2 separate regions of the Homo sapiens genome follow, and region 2 is linked to region 1. A link means that fine-mapping ties the variant in region 1 to the expression of a gene that starts in the linked region. Tissue or cell type: whole blood. Region 1 holds a variant in brackets; the other region holds the start of a gene. All regions are shown on one strand. Distances are from middle to middle.

Region 1 (8,109 bases):
TTTTTTGTAAAAGGTAGTTTTTTTGTTTTGTTTTTGTTTTTTCATAGTTTATCTGCAATTATAAGTCTACAATTCTCAATGGGTCCAAGCTGGCAGAAAACAAAATGCTGCAATATTTGAGTGAAAGCAGGCAAAAGTCATTAGATGAGAACAATGATTTTAACTTTAAATAAGATTTGGGTGGTTGCAGGGTTTGTATAATCTCTCCTGGCATTTGTAAGGACCAGAGAAGCCAGCAGCTTTGCCCTCCTGCTGTGTTTAAACAAAAATGGAAAATTGTAATGAACAGCTAGATTTTTCCTATCTTTCATTTTTTTCTTCCTCCTCCTTCCCCATTTTTAGGAGAATGTGACTTTTAAAATGATTGCCCTTTAATGAGGTTACTTGCAGCATTTTAAGATCAATCCTTCTTTGTTCAAATTTCTACCCACAAATCAAAACTGTTTTAATCTTCATTATCTCAGTAAAGCGCATGTGACAAAAGTAAATGGAGAAGACGTCTAGAAATGTTGTGAGGGTTCTCTGGGGTTATCCACTTCCTGTATTTGCTAAAACTCTAATAATCAGTTCCAGTAGAGACCATGTATCCTGGGGTTTTGTTTTGTGTAACAGCTATTTGTTTATTTTTTTTAACTGTCATTGTATTTTGGCTTCATGATGGTTAAATGAGTCTCCGTATTAAGTAAACCTCTCTGACCCTGCCTATTTCCTGTCTTGTCAAACCTTTCCTTGTAAGAATAACAGTGTTCTTTTATTTGGTAGTGTGCAGCATGATGTTTTTGGCATGGCCAACATTTTTGACTTGCAAAAATTTGTGACCTCAAGTGTGAGAGAAGTGAATGCTTTTTTCGGTACCTCATGGGGTCTCAATCTTAAAAAGTATCTTACGAAAGAATTATCAGCATGTTTATTTCCCAAACATCACAAATAAACAAATAGAAATAGCTTTTTTTAATAAGCTACTAAAAATATTAAACCAATGAATACTTGGTGAACATTTTGCTGCTACTAAACTTACATAATTTCTCAAACTGGCCTAGCTATATGAAGACACAGAGCTTTTATCATGTTCTGTCTAGTAATTCATATTTTTGAAAACATATTTTCAAACCAAAACACATTGTATGTGAGTGGAGTATGGCTATTCCAAGTCACAGAATGGAAGAAATATCTTTGTTGCCTCATCCTTATATACCTAGGTCTATTTAGTTCTGAAATGGATTCTATAAGATAAGAACCATCAAAATCAAAAGTCTCAATCAAATGCACCTCCTTTTTTTAAGGTAGCTAGCCATTTGCTAGCATTTTTCTCTTATCTTTTGGTTTATTTTTCAATAATGTGGACATTATGAGAATAAAATCATGGTAAACATCTCTTGCATTTAAAGATTGACAACTGCTAAATATTAATTTTGAAATATTGATAACTAATTAGAATCTGAAGAAAATAGATTGTGTTGATTTGAAGGTGTCATGAATAAATTCTTATAATCACATAGCAGTAGTTCTGAAAGTCTTGGCTAACAAAAATCTAAATATCTGCAGCAAATGGAATTTGATAAAAGTACCACCAACTAGTAGTTTTTTGTTTTTTATCATTGGCTAGAAATATAGTTCTAATAAAGAGCCTGTGATGTATAGGCAGTAACAAAGAAAAAGCTGAGGACTAAAAAGATACATTCATCATTCTAGTATGGAATATTTTTTCTCAAAATGTCTGAAACACAGAACTATAAGCTTAATTTAAGATTTTCAGCCTGAGCAACATGGTGAAAACCCATCTCTACCAAAAATTAGCTGGGCATGATGGTGCATGCCTGTAGCCTATAGTCCCAGCCATTCAGGAGGTTGAGGTGGGAGGATCAATTGAGCCTAGGAGTTCGAGGCTGCAGTGCACCGAGATCACACCATTGCACTCCAACTTGGGTGACAGAATGAGATCCTGTCTCAAAAAAAAATATTTTTTCTTAGACCTGTCATTCAAACTTCCTTTAATTATTCATTGTCATTAAGTATTTCTTTTTCAGAGCCAAATCCAAGGAGACTTAAATTGTATTATCAAGATTTATTTCATTTATACCACACACATATAACACATATACTTTCCTATACTATAGTTTTCAAAACACTATTGTGTTGTCTTCCTTTTTAGAAAAAAAATACAGTAATACTTGAAATTGTATTAGCATTTTAACTAGCCCAGCACCTATTTTTTTCCACATGTGGTTTCCACTGGTGGTTTTCATAGGCCTCTAGAAGTTGTAGGTGTAGCCCCTTGTAGGTACAGATTGCCTTGTTTAAATAAAGGAATCATTTTTTCTTTAATAGAACCTAATTTTTTAAAAGCACATTTAAGTTGTGCAGTTGTGATTTGAAATAATAACAAAAAGTGATTACACCTAAAAGTTCTAAACTGGTACAATATTATCATGCCATTAGCTGTGATGGAGCTGAAAGCTGATAGAACTTACACTTGTATCTCATGACTCTGTTTCCTTTGAAGTAAGCACTGGTGGCTGACCGAGTTTAATGTCCCAGCTTTTTGGATCTCTAAGAGGATTACAGTGTGATTTTATAACCTGCCACAAATTCCTCTCTATGCAACTTACTATGTGCTATGTATGTGTTTTTAAAAAAATCAACTGGAGCATGTGCCTGTAGTCCCACCTACTTGGGAGGCTGACTCAGGAGAATCATTTGAGCCCAGGAGGCGGGAGGTTGCAGTGGGCTGAGATCACACCACTGTACTCCAGCCTATGGGACAGGGAGAGATTCCATCTTAAAAAAAAAAAAAAGAAAAAAAAAAGCAAAACAAAAACAACAACAGCAAAAAACCAATTGGAATCAAAATGTGTTTTCAAATGAGTCACTTTATTTTTTATTTCTTAGAGTTTTCTGAAAAATTTTTTTTTTTTTTGAGACAGTCTCACTCTTTTGCCCAGGCTAGAGTGCAGTGGTGTGATCTCTGCTCACTGCAAGCTCAGCCTCCCGGGTTCAAGCGATTCTCCTGCCTCAGCCTCCTGAGTAGCTGGGACTACAGGCGCCTGCCACCATGCCTGGCAAATTTTTTTGTACTTTTAGTAGAGA[C/T]GGAGTTTCACTGTATTAGCCAGGATGGTCTCGATCTCCTGACCTTGTGATCTGCCTGCCTTGGCCTCCCAAAGTGCTGGGATTACAGGCGTGAGCCACCGCACCTGGTCTTCTGAAATTTTAAAAATTGCTTCAGCATAGTGCTGAAATACTTTATGTATGTAATGTAGAAGTCAATACAACAATAAAAATATCAGTCCTCTCTCTACCCCTCTCCACTCTGAGTCTAAACACTTTCAACTGTTTGTGATTTACTTTCATGTTCCTAAATAATATGCAAGTGCAGTTATTTCATTTCGTTTCAAGTGTAGTCACTTTCTACTGGTTTTCTTCTGGGGCTGATGAGAATTTAGCTTTCTTACCATACCCCTCTGGCTGCATTCCTCCCATGCCCCCACTTTGTCCTTCCTCTCATCCTCCCAACATAATCGTCTAACAATATTCTGGCTAAATTTAAAGCTGAGTCATATAGTGTACTATGGTAACATGTTTATGTAACCTTTTGTGGGTTTCTTTTTTTCATTAGTAATAGCTTATTTTTTGTTGTTGCTTAGTTTTTTATGCTTATTAGGAATTTCTCCCTAAATTCTTTGGTAGAATTGTGATACTCCCTTGAATAGAGTTGGACTCTAAGATAATCTATCAGTTTCTTTTTCTTTTCATTTTTTTTCTTCTAGATGCTTCCCCACTTTAATTCCTTTGTCTCTAGCTCCTGTCACTCCTGACTACTCTGCAACTGCCATCCTGGAGCTCAGTCTTCATAGGAATCCCTTTCATCTGTGTCCTCCACGCAATTTCCTATTGCCTGTATCCCATGCTTTTCCAGTTTGGGTTTGTTCCTCACTTTGGTAAAGCACAATCTCCAGCAGCTGCTTTTTAAACATTTGAAAATTTTATTTTATTTATTTTTTTTTTTTTGAGATGGAGTTTTGCTCTTGTCACCCAGGCTGGAGTGCCGTGGTGCAATCTGGGCTCACTACAACTTCTGCCTCCTGGGTTCAAGTGATTCTCCTGCCTCAGCCTCCCAAGTAGCTGGGATTACAGGCACCCTCCACCATGCCTGGCTAATTTTTGTATTTTTAGTAGAGACGTGGTTTCACCATGGTGGCCACACTGGTCTCGAATTCCTGACCTCAGGTGATCTGTCCGCCTTGGCCTCCCAAGGTGCTGGGATTACAGGGGTGAGCCACCGCACCTGGCCTAAACATTTTTTTAAATTGAAGTGTACCAAACTGTTTGCTAAACTTAAATGCACTAACTTAAGTGCTCAGCCCAATGCATTTTTGTATACACAGACATTCACGTAACTGACATCCAGATCAAGATATTGAATAGTTCCCAAACTCTTCAAGGCTCCCTCATGCCTCTTCCCCATCAGTAACCTCTATCCTACCCCGTACCTTCAACACGGTCATCGCTACTCTGGCTTCTACCACCATCAATGAGTTTTGCCTGTTCTTGAACTTTATATAAAATCATCATACAGTATGTACTGTTTTGTGTTTGGTATTCTTGCATCATGCTTGGGAGAGTCATCCATGTTGTTGCATGTACCAGTTGTTTATTTTGTTGTTTGTTTTTGCTATTTTATGTGGTATGAATGTAAAGTATTTGGATATAATAAATAAAGCTGCTACAACCAGTCTGGTCCCTGTCTTTTGTTGCACGCATGCACTCATTTCTTTTGGGGAATATCACCTAGAGGTGGAATTGCTGGGTCATAGGGTAGCCATTAACTTCTTGAGAAATGGTACAGTTAGAAATATCTTTGATAGGTTATACATTAGGTTAGGCTAGACTATGCTGCAGAAAAAAATAAGCTTCATTTCTTTTTTTTTTATTATACTTTAAGTTTTAGGGTACATGTGCACAACGTGCAGGTTTGTTACATATGTATACATGTGCCATGTTGGTGTGCTGCACCCATTAACTAGTCATTAACATTAGGTATATCTCCTAATGACCCAGCCATCCCATTACTGGGTATATACTCAAAGGATTATAAATCATGCTGCTATAAAGACACATGCATACATATGTTTATTGTGGCACTATTCACAATAGCAAAGACTTGGAACGAACCTAAATGTCCAACAATGATAGACTAGATTAAGAAAATGTAGCTTCACTTCTTAATGGGTTAACATGTCAAGTCTTTTTCTGGGTCACACCAAGTTGGCTGGAAGTTGGGTAACTCTCCAGGGCAACTATCTTTCATGTGGTGATCCAGTAATGCAAACTGCTTCAATCTCGTGGCTCCACCATTTCAACATCAGACGTCTTCAGAAAGCGTGGAGTTCATACTCCTGTCTAACTATTTGGCCAGAAAGTCTATGTCACTTCTGTTCACAGCCATGATCAGAACGTGTGGCCCTGCCTAACTTGGAGAAGCCTGGGAAGTGTAGTCCTCTTTGCACCCAGGAAGGAAAGGGGAACCAGATATTGGGGAGCATAAATACTGTATACCACACTTTACATACCTGACAATACCTTGATTCTAATTTCACAGTGAAATGAGAGATTGGCCAGGGAGTAAAGCCTTGGTAGAAAGTAATTGTTTTCCTTGGGATCTTTAAGTCATTTCTACATTGCTTTTTAGCTTCTACTGTTACTGTTAAGAAGTCCAGTACATTTTGAATCAACTTTATGTGGAAACTATTTGTTTCTTTGGAGTTTTAAAGAGTTTTATTTTTTATTCCTAGTATTTTGAAATTTCACAATGACATACCTTGATATGGGTATTTTACTTTCTTATCTTTACTCATTGTGGTTTTTTTGTTTGTTTCTTTTGTACTGCCTTCTAAAAGATATTCTTAATTTTACCTGCCAATTCTTTGTGGATTTTTAAAAACATTTCTACTTTAACATTTTAATTTTTAAGAGATTTTTATAGCATCTTATTATCTAGGTGCAGGAACTCTTAAAGGAGGGTTTCTGAAGTCTTCTCTTGCATTGCCTCTTTTCTTCATGTTTTTGTTTTCTATTTATTTGTCATTGCTCTTGTTTTTAAAACCTGTCTCTCATATTGGAGAGTTTCCTAATGTATCTGGAGATCTTTGGCTGCCTACATTTAGGCGTCAGGGAATAAAATGTTGATTGGAAGCCCTGTGTGCTTTGGTAGGACTTGCAGACTGGTGGACTGCACTGTAGAATGATAGGCAGGAGCCAGGCACTTCGTTGGGTGACTGCCATGTCAGTATTAGTAGGTGTTTTCCTTAGGGTTGGTCACTTTCTCCAAAGAAGAACTTGCCAGTCTCCTCTGTAGGGAGCATAGGCTTTGATGTCTGTGTTCATGGAGCTGCATGAAGGTTTCCACGTGTCCCCCTTCAGTATGTGGACTTTCACTTAATCCTTCTGTTTCTGTCCAGCCTCTTACCCTACTCCCCAGTATCACTGAGTCCAGAACCCTGCTGGTTCAGCCTCTCCAGAGAGCAAACATCCTGCCTTCTACCAGGGAAGAGGAGAGACGCTCATCTGACTGGAGGCATGGTGAAGACTCTATAACTTACTTTTATAGACATTCAACAAAGTCTTTGCCTTTGGCTCCACCCATTCCTGTCATCTTCATCAACACCAAGAACTATCAATCCTGACCTTTCCTAAGTTCTTTAGAGCAACTTATCTTTCTTCTTCTTGGCTTCCTCTTAGGTTTTATTAGGCTTTTAGGTTTTGGTTGTTTTCCCCACTTTACTCAGTCAACAACTCCTCTCTTTTTGGCTTTCCATCTTCCAAAATACAATTGTCAACTTTTGTCTGATGTCTCCTCTACAGCTCTCTTTGTCCTTGGGAGTTTACACCTTTTTAAATCCCCTTACTGTCATTTTCAATAGGTTTCTCCAGAGAGTATATATAAATGTTTGTCTTTAATTTTCAATGTTTAATTTGAATCATAACTACTTTGTAAAGCCAGAATACCATCATGTGACTACTGTGGCTAAAATCTGTTCTTAGAACTTCAATCCTACAGCATGAGTTCTAACCCATAAGCATGCAAGATCTTTCACGATTTAACTCTTGGTAGCTTTTCTAACCTTAATAAAACAACCCAGACAAAGGATTTTGTTTTGTTTGCTATTTTTCAAATATTCCTACTCTTTCTTGTTTTCAAGGCTATGCATAGACTTTCCATTACATGGAATCTACTTGTCTTCTTCCTATGAAACACCTACTGATTCTTCATCTTTTCTATGAAGCATTCTTTGACTTCTCTAGATCAGAGTAAGTCTCTTCTTGTATGTTCATATAGCAAAAATAATAATAATTATAATAATAATAAAAAATATAAATATAAATATAAATATAAAATTTTTATTTTATAGTTATATTTTTATAATTTTATAATATAATTTTATAATATAAAATTTGATTTTTATTTTATAAAAATAAAAATATAATTATTATTATAATAAAAAATACTTCTTTAAAAACAACTATATTTTCCCAATCCCACAGTGGAGAATTTAGGTGTAGTATTTTGCAGTTCCACAATGGAGGACTGCTGCACAAAATATTGCCCTCAATGGCTACGATTGTGTCCTATTCTTCCTTGACTTTTCTAGCACTTAGCAAAGTGTCTGTCATATCTCAGCCATTCAGTATATATTTTATGAATGAATGAATATGGAAGATATAATCTGAGACCTCTTGGGTGCTGCAAAACAATTGCATCAAAAGGTAAAACCTTCACCCTGGAGCCAGGATTTCCAGGTCCTGATTTTTGCCTCAGTTGAGCTTGCAGGATATAACCTGGCATAACCCACTGTCACTTTTCTGCTCTTGAATTTACTCACTTGTGCAATAGGAATATCTCTCAGAATGTTATCTTCCCCTCCCCCCCTTTTTTTTTGACTCAAGAGTCTCAATTTGTTACCCAGGATAAAGTGCAATAGTACAATCATAGCTCATCGAAGCCTCTACCTCCTGTGCTCAAGTGATCCTCCCACCTCAGTCTCCTGGGTAGCTGAGACTACAAGCATATGCCACCACACCCAGATAATGAAAAAGCAATACCCTAGAGATAGG
Region 2 (8,109 bases), 180 kb before region 1:
AAGAAGTAAAATTAACTCTGTTTGCAGAAGATGTGATCTTATATAGAAAATTATTCAGAGAAAATTTTAAAGACAACACCAAAAAAACTATTAGAACAAATTCAGTAAAGTTATAGAATACAAAGTCAACATTCAAAAATCCACTGCATATCTACACACTAATAATAATGAACTATCCAAAAAATTAAGAACATAATCTCATTTAAAATAGCATCAGAAAGAATAAAATACCTAGAAATAAATTTAACCAAGAAAGCTAAAGAGCTATACACTGAAAAACGATCAAACAATGATAAAAGAAATTGAAAATAATACAAATGAAAGATATTCCATGTTCACAGATGAGAGGAATTAATATTGTCAAAATGTCCTTCCTACCCAAAATGACCTATAAATTCAATGTGATCTCTATCAAAATTCTAACAGCATTTTTCACAGAAACGGAAAAATTCCTGAAATCCGTATGAACCATAAAAGATCTCAAATGGCTAAAGCAAGCTTAAACAAGAAGAAAAAACTAAAAGTACCACACTACCTGATTCAAGTTATATTACAAATCTATAGTAATCAAAACAATATGGTACTGGTACAAAAACAGACACACAGACCAATGGAGCATAACAAACACTCAAAAACACATCCCCAATATATGGTAAACTAATCCTTGACAAAGGCACCAAAAATATACAATGGTGAAAGGACAGTCTCTTCAAAAAATGGTATTGGGAAAACTAGATATCCACATACAAAACAAAATGAAAATGGATTAAAAACTTATAACACCTAAAACCATGGAACTCCTAGAAGAAAACACAAGAGAAAAGCTCCATGACCTTGGCCTTGGCAATGATTTTTTTTTTTTTTGATATGACACCAAAAGCACAGACAACACAAACAAAAGTAAACAACTGGGACTACATCAAAGTAAAAAGTTATTGCACAGCAAAGGAAACTCAACAAAATAAAAAGGCAACCTAAGAAATGAGAGATAAAATTTGCAAACCATATATCCAATAAGGGATTAATATCAAAAATGTATAAGGAACCCATACAACTCAATAGCAACCCAATTTAAAAAATGAGAAAAGGATCCAAACAGATAATTTTTCCAAAGAAGACATACCAACGGCCAAAAGGTATATGAAAAGGTGCTCAATATCACTGTTCATCAGGGAAATACAACTCAAAACCAGACTGCAATATCACTTCATACCTGTTAGGATGACTTATCGAAAAGTCAAAAGATAGCAACTGTTGCTGAGGACGTGGAGAAAGAACCTTTAGATACTGCTGGTGGGAATATACATTGGTACAGCCATTATGGAAAACAGCATCAAGGGTCCACAAAAAATTAAAAACAGAACTACCACATGATTCATCAATGCCACTTCTGGGTATATATCCAATGAAAATGAAATCACTATCTCAAGGAGATATCTGCACTCCCATGTTCGCTGCATCATCCACAATACCCAAGATATGGAAACAACGACTTAAGTGTCCATTGACAGATAAATGATTAAAGGAAACATGATATATATTATATTTTATGTTTACACAACACATCCACACTGGAATATTATTATTCAGCCTTACAAAAAGAACAAAATCTTGCCATTTGCAACAACAGAGATAAACCTAGAGGACATTGGGCTATGTGAAAAAAGCCAGACTCAGAAAGACAAATGCTACATGATCTCACTTACACACAGACTTTTAAAAAAGTCAAACTCAGAAGCAGAGAGTAGAAGGGTGTTTACCAGAGGTGGAGGGCAGCAGGGGATGGGGAAATGTTCTAAGGGCACAAACTTTCAGTTATAAGATGAGTAAGTTCTGTAGATCTAAGGTACAGTATAGTGACTATACTTAACATATTTACTGTATACTTGAAATTTGCTTAAAGAATAGATCTTAAGTATTTTCAACACCAAAAAATATGGTAGCTATGCGAGGTAACAGATACGTTAATTAGCGTGATTGTGGTAATCATTTCACAATTTATTTGTATACCAAACCATCACACTGTACACTTCAAAATATACAATTTTTGTCAATTTACCTCAATAAAGCTGGGGGAAACAGTTCTAGTCTTTATTCCTAATAAAAATCACTCAGCTAAAGAACACATTACCTTGCTCCAATGCTTAATATTTTATAGTACCCTAATATAACTCTCAATCTCTACCTACTCCAAAGTTATACTTAATTACACATGAATAATAAAGTTATAATAATACTGCTCTTTTCCCTCCTATTCATTTTTAAGAAAAGGAGAGCTAGTATACCATTTGGCGTTAAAGAAGAAGACTACAGTTGGAAAACGGATCTTTTCTAAAGGTGTGAATATGCAAACTAAATTCCCTGTATATGAGTTTCATAAGCATGAAAGTTCACTTCTGCATTTCTTCCACAAATATTTACTAGGCCTTAAGAATACAAAGAAGAATAAGACATAGTGGTCTCCCACCCTCAATAACTATGGATTAACCTCAGCAAATATTATTTCAATCCTGATGACAAGCAGTACTCTGTTCAATTCCAACCAATACATAATTTGGGGCAATATTATGGTAATTTTTATAATCAACAATGAATTATTTTTATTATTAAAAGTATATGGTAATCAACTCAAGGTTTATGTATTGGGGTTGTTATCCACTCCTACTAGTTCACGAAGTAAAAAAAAAAAAAAAAAAAAAAAGGACTAGGTCGCTAGTTATTCAGTTTGAATGACTCATGCTGGACCATCACAAATCTTCTTATGGAATAGACAGTAAGAGAAATCCCTGAGAGTAAATTGGACTCGATTCAACTTCTGGGAAAAAGAGAAAGGGAGAGGCGAATTATAAGCAATATGGAAATAATCTGTATTTACTAGTAATATTTCTTCATTTCTTCACCTTATATTTTTCTCTTCCTAAATTAGAAAAGGATTCTTTCTCCACCTTTCTCCTTTCTCTTTTCCTGTCTTGCTAAATCATGAAGAGACTTTAGAAGGGAATAGAAAATCTGATGGAGGTTTAGATACCAAACTTCCCCTATATCAAAACTAATCATACCCAAGTATAGGAGGGCTTCTCTCTGTAATTCAAGGCTGCACTTTTTGTTCAGGAGAAAAGGTGGCATGTATACTCGTGTTTAGATATGAATAGCACATATTTTTAAGTTTATCATTCCACCGGTTTTCATTTCTATTTTTAATGCCAAATTCCAGAAAGCCCACATTTTGGCAAGCATGGTAGAAAGCACTTCATTCCCTTTCTGGTTCCTCAATTACTGAGGTGCACCACTCTTCATCCAGGAATAAACTCCACTAAGTTCCAATCTCTTATACCTGCACCTCTATTCTCCTAGAAGATGCTGCCGATCCTGTTCAAACTCATTTGAGAGCAAGAGTGTCAAAGAGCTGGGGAGAGCTACCCCATCTTTTTTGCCACCAACTTTTACACAGACTGGTCCAGTTCTTACCATACAATTTCAAACATGCTTATACAAAGGTCAGAAAGACCTTTCCCTTGTCTATTTTACTGTGAGCATATATCTATTGCTTTCTGCTCTGAGGCATAACAGAGAAGGAAAAGGATGTTTTCACTTAATTATTAACATACTTTCAACTTCAGGTTTAAGGAGGTAGGCATATGAAAGTAAGCGCTTAACTTCATATCCTCCCACAGGACAGGAACAAAGGAGAGCATAACATTTCCCTAGAACCAGAAATTATTATGGATTGGGGTCAACTAAATTCTTTATAGGCACTGGTGACAGCTGCGACCTTAAAAGTCTTCCTTCATTTGGGAAAAAAAAAATCTTAACCATCTATTATACCAAACTTAAGATAATCATACACTGAGTTAAAAAAAAAAATACTCTCCACAGCTGACGCACATTACCCAGTGGGAAGGGAAGCCACGCACATCGCACATTTCCCTTTTTAAAGTACGTCTAGCCAATTCAAGAGTAACACAAAACATAGAGTCTAACAGCACATTATTAAACTTCCTCTCGGTATAAATCAGTTTAAAAATGAACATACACTTTAGAAAACAACAAAACACTAAACTTGTGAAGCTCAGAAAGAAGCCAGGAATATTCCTTTTAAATATGTTCTCGGTGGTTAAGAGGAAATGTCCGATGATGTCATCCCTAGATACTCCCTAGTGATGAACACTAACTACTGGTCCTTAAAGGGGGACCATTTTCCTGCAAACCGTGGCGGTCGCTGAGCTTTGCTCAAAGATTCTTTAACCAAAGTCAGGGAAGAGGGGTGTTCGCTGTCTCGGGCTAGAAATCAGGGAAGAGCGCTGGTCCCCGGGCCCCCAGCCCCGGCTCCCAGACCACAGGCGGCCAGGCCTGGGGCGGGCGGGGAAGGGCCTGGGAGCGGCCCAGCTGCACCTGCTCCTCAGGAAGCCGATGGCCCGGGGGCGGGCCGGGGTCTGGGGGTGGTTGTCCCCCATCGGGGCACAGCCCGGCCTCTAGCCGCCCGGTAGACTCCCCGCCCCCCACCTCGCCCCGGTTCCCGGAGGAAAAGACAATACATTTTAACGCCATTGGAGCTGCTGCTGTGCTGCGGCTGCTGCTTCTCCGCCTCCGCGGGGTGCGGCTCTCGCCGCGGCTCGCCCGGCGGCTCTGCGGGCTGCAGGTGCGGGCTGTCGCCACCAGTGGCCCCGGGCACCTCGGCCTTGTTGGCGTCCGCCATCCCGCCGCCGCTGCCTCCGCCTCGGCCGCCTGAGCTGAGGGGCTCCGAGCGCGACAATGGCGGCTGCCGGGGAAGCGGTAACGGATCCCGATTTGAAAAGGCCCCGAGCGCTCAGTAACCCGGATCTCGCGAGAACCGGTCGAGACTGGGTGACTGGGAGATGGTGTGTGCCGGGTGCGGGGGGTGGGAGTGCGGGGGGAGGGGAGCCATGGGAGCTGGGGTCAGGGCCGCTGTTGCTGCAGTCGGCCCTACACCTGCCTGGGAGGGCTGGACCAGTCCTGAAAGCCCCCGGTGGTGGTGCCATGTCTGCCCACCAGCCCGCCTGTCGCTTGGCACCAGTGGAGTCTTCGCTTGCAAAGCGGGATTAGACATCAAAGCCCTAACACCCAGACTGTTCAATTCATTCCAGGTAGGGGCAGTTAAAGAACACACCACTTTGCATCTTTAAAGACTTCTTGCAAGTCCTCAGACTGCCTTTAGAAATCCTTTGAATTAAGCAAATATAAGTCTCTTGCCATTTCAATGCCTAGGCACCCTTCGGACATTCCATAAATAGTTATTGATGACTGATTGCAATTCACCAAAAGGAATGACTTTGAATTTCTTTGAGAATTATTTGTTCTTAGGGGGTGAGGATTTCCCAGGAACTCAACTATCAGCTTAGTAAGAGAAGACTGCAGTTTTTCTCTGGACATCAATCAATATGGGGAATCCATAATTATAAAATATCGTCTACTAGATGGGCTAATAATGGACATTTGAGGTTTTGACTGTGTGTTTATTGTATACTGATGGAAATTCTAGTGAAGTAGTTAGTTATACGCTCTCAAATTTAATTGCCATATGGAGTTTTAAAATACAGTCGTAGATTTTTCCCCCTAAGTATGAAAAGGAAACCGTTAAATTTAATCAACTCCTAATTCTCGAGTACTATAATCTTTCACATTGACATAACCTTTTTCAGCTGAAAAGTTTAAATGCCTTCCCAAATTTTTTTTCCATGAAGAAGCAAACACGTACAGTTTAGTCACTTTGCAGAATATCATACACACATCAGTGGTAAAGTTATAGTTAGAAAGTAATACTCAAATAACATAATTTCATCTTCGGCTTTTCAATGTGTAGTTTCCTACCCTCTACCGAAAAATACCAAGTTCAGCTACTTCATCACACACACACATACACACACACACATACACAAACACACACACACATAATCAGAACATTTTAATGATAAGAATGCTATTGTAGTTGCTGTATAAATTGTTTCTCATTCAACTCTGAGACATAAGATTTATAATCGCAGAAAGGGCATTCAATTGTGACAGACAAAATCTGGGTTAGAACCCCAGCTCTGCCTCTTTTTGCCCATAACTCCCTGGGCAAGTCACCTCATTTCTCAATCTCTCTACAATAAATAGGGATAGCAATACCGACCTTACAGGATTGAGGTGAGGATTAAAAGAAAGCACTTTATGTAGGAAAAAGTGCTATATGAACATAATGTAATATTACAATTCTCTATCTCCCTAAGCTCAGCAGGGTTTTAGTCAAAGACAAGCCAAGTGATTTTTCCCACAGCACTAAATTATAAGTACTTTCAAAATAGTCATCATTCTGTTATTCTTTTGCTATTGTTGAATTCAGTATGAAAATTGAACCCCACCATCACCAGTACAATATATTCTTGCAAAAATCCTTTAATCAACTCAATGCAAGATTTTTTTAAGAGGCCTTTATGCTTCAAACAGAGTAGTAGGTACATGAGGAATACAAAAATGAGTACAGCCCTGTTGGGAGAGGGCTAATGTAAAAAGTACTATTTAAGTGCTATAATACAAATAAAAGCAAAGTATAATTAAAAAATTATTTACAAAAACAGGAGACTGGCCCACATGCCTTAGTTTGCCAATTAAAATATTCCATTAAAATATTTATCTTGATTACTGAGTTTTAACTTTTGTACCCAAGACAAATGCCTCACCCGCTGTAGCTTGGTTCTAGTCCTGATAAAGAGCAGAGGTTAATTCCTACTGAGAGATTGGTGAGGGCCTTATAAAAGAGCTGGATCTTAAAAGACAAAGAATTAAGGCAACTTCTGAAGGGAAGAGAATGATTAATCTTTACCATTCCATCTGACTGCTCAATAGATTGATCTTTCCTTCCTTTCTTGCTATTAATTGCAAAAGATAAAGAAAAAACTATTAATATTCTGTTGCTGAATTCCATTTCTGTATTTGCTTGTCTTCCTCTCTACTGTTTTGGTTTGTTTTGTTTTGTTTTGTCTTTTTTGAGATGGAGTCTCGCTCTGTCACCCAGGCTGGAGTGCAGTGGCGCCATCTCTGCTCACTGCAAGCTCCACCTCCCGCGTTCATACCGTTCTCCTGCCTCAGCCTCCTGAGTAGCTGGGACTACAGGCGCCCGCCAGCAGGCCCGGCTAATTTTTTGTATTTTTAGTAGAAACAGGTTTCACCGTGTTAGCCAGGATGGTCTCCATCTCCTGACCCTGTGATCTGCCTGCCTTGGCCTCCCAAATTGCTGGGATTACAGGCGTGAGCCAGAGCGCCCGGCCTTGGTTTTTTGTTTTTTGTTTGTTTGTTTTTTAGTGCATGTAGGTACATTGAAAAATTCTTAAGTGATGCTCAAATTCTTATTTTCCCATGATTCACATTGCAAAAGCATTATCCTTTGCAATTGCACAAAATATATTACTGGTACAACTTCACATAATCACTTAGTTTTCTTTCTTACAAATTAGAATGCATGTTTATGTGTGTGTACCTGGCGGGATAGGGGAAAAGCTATTACACGTATCTAGAAATCTAATCCTAGAAATCACAAAATATTTTCAATTAATACCTTAATATATGTATCACTTAGGAATTGTGTTCATCTGCTAATAACAATAACTAGAAATAATAGTGTCTTAAGCAAGATATACATTTTTACTCTCTTAAGTAAAATAAATGCAGAAGGAGCATCCCAGAGGATATATAGTAGCTTCACAGTCATCGTGAAGTCAGGTTCCTGCTACCTTAATCTTTCGCCATCCTAGTGTGAGGCTTCCATTCTTAAGGTTGCCCTATGACCCAAGATGGCTGCTGGAGATCGAGGCACCTTGTCGGCATTGTAGGTCAGAAGGAGTCCAGAAAAAAAGGGACCTATCCAGAAGTCTCACACAACACTTCCGCTTATGGGCAAGAACTTAGTCACATGACACACTCATCTGTGGGGGAGGTTGGCAAATAATTTGGGGGCTGGGCTTACTGCCCAGGGTTCTGTTACCAATGAAGAAGAGAATGGATGTCATCATTCTTCTTTTTTTTAATTTATTTTGTCTTTAAGAATTAAGTTTTAGGGATAATAATAAAATTTAAAAGAAAAAGAAACTAGACAAAAATGGTGGCTAACAT

The links. PIP is the estimated chance that this variant, and not a neighbour inherited with it, causes the effect.
Region 2: MYEF2 starts here. The variant in region 1 is fine-mapped to the expression of MYEF2 in whole blood (INTERVAL, PIP 0.93).

The regions. Positions count from the first base shown.
Region 1 is chr15:48,358,342-48,366,450 of GRCh38, forward strand. No RefSeq gene overlaps it. Among named protein-coding and RNA genes, the nearest start is that of DUT-AS1, 31 kb to the left of the region's middle. The variant C/T (reference allele first, on the strand shown) is at 3,088.
Region 2 is chr15:48,173,542-48,181,650 of GRCh38, forward strand. MYEF2 (myelin expression factor 2) reads right to left here and starts at 4,754. Exons shown (of 17, transcript NM_016132.5): 1 at 4,536-4,754. The coding sequence starts at 4,696. It also overlaps a transcript of CTXN2 not described here. RefSeq lists silencers at 4,096-4,265, 4,296-4,725, 4,896-4,995 and an enhancer at 4,698-5,349.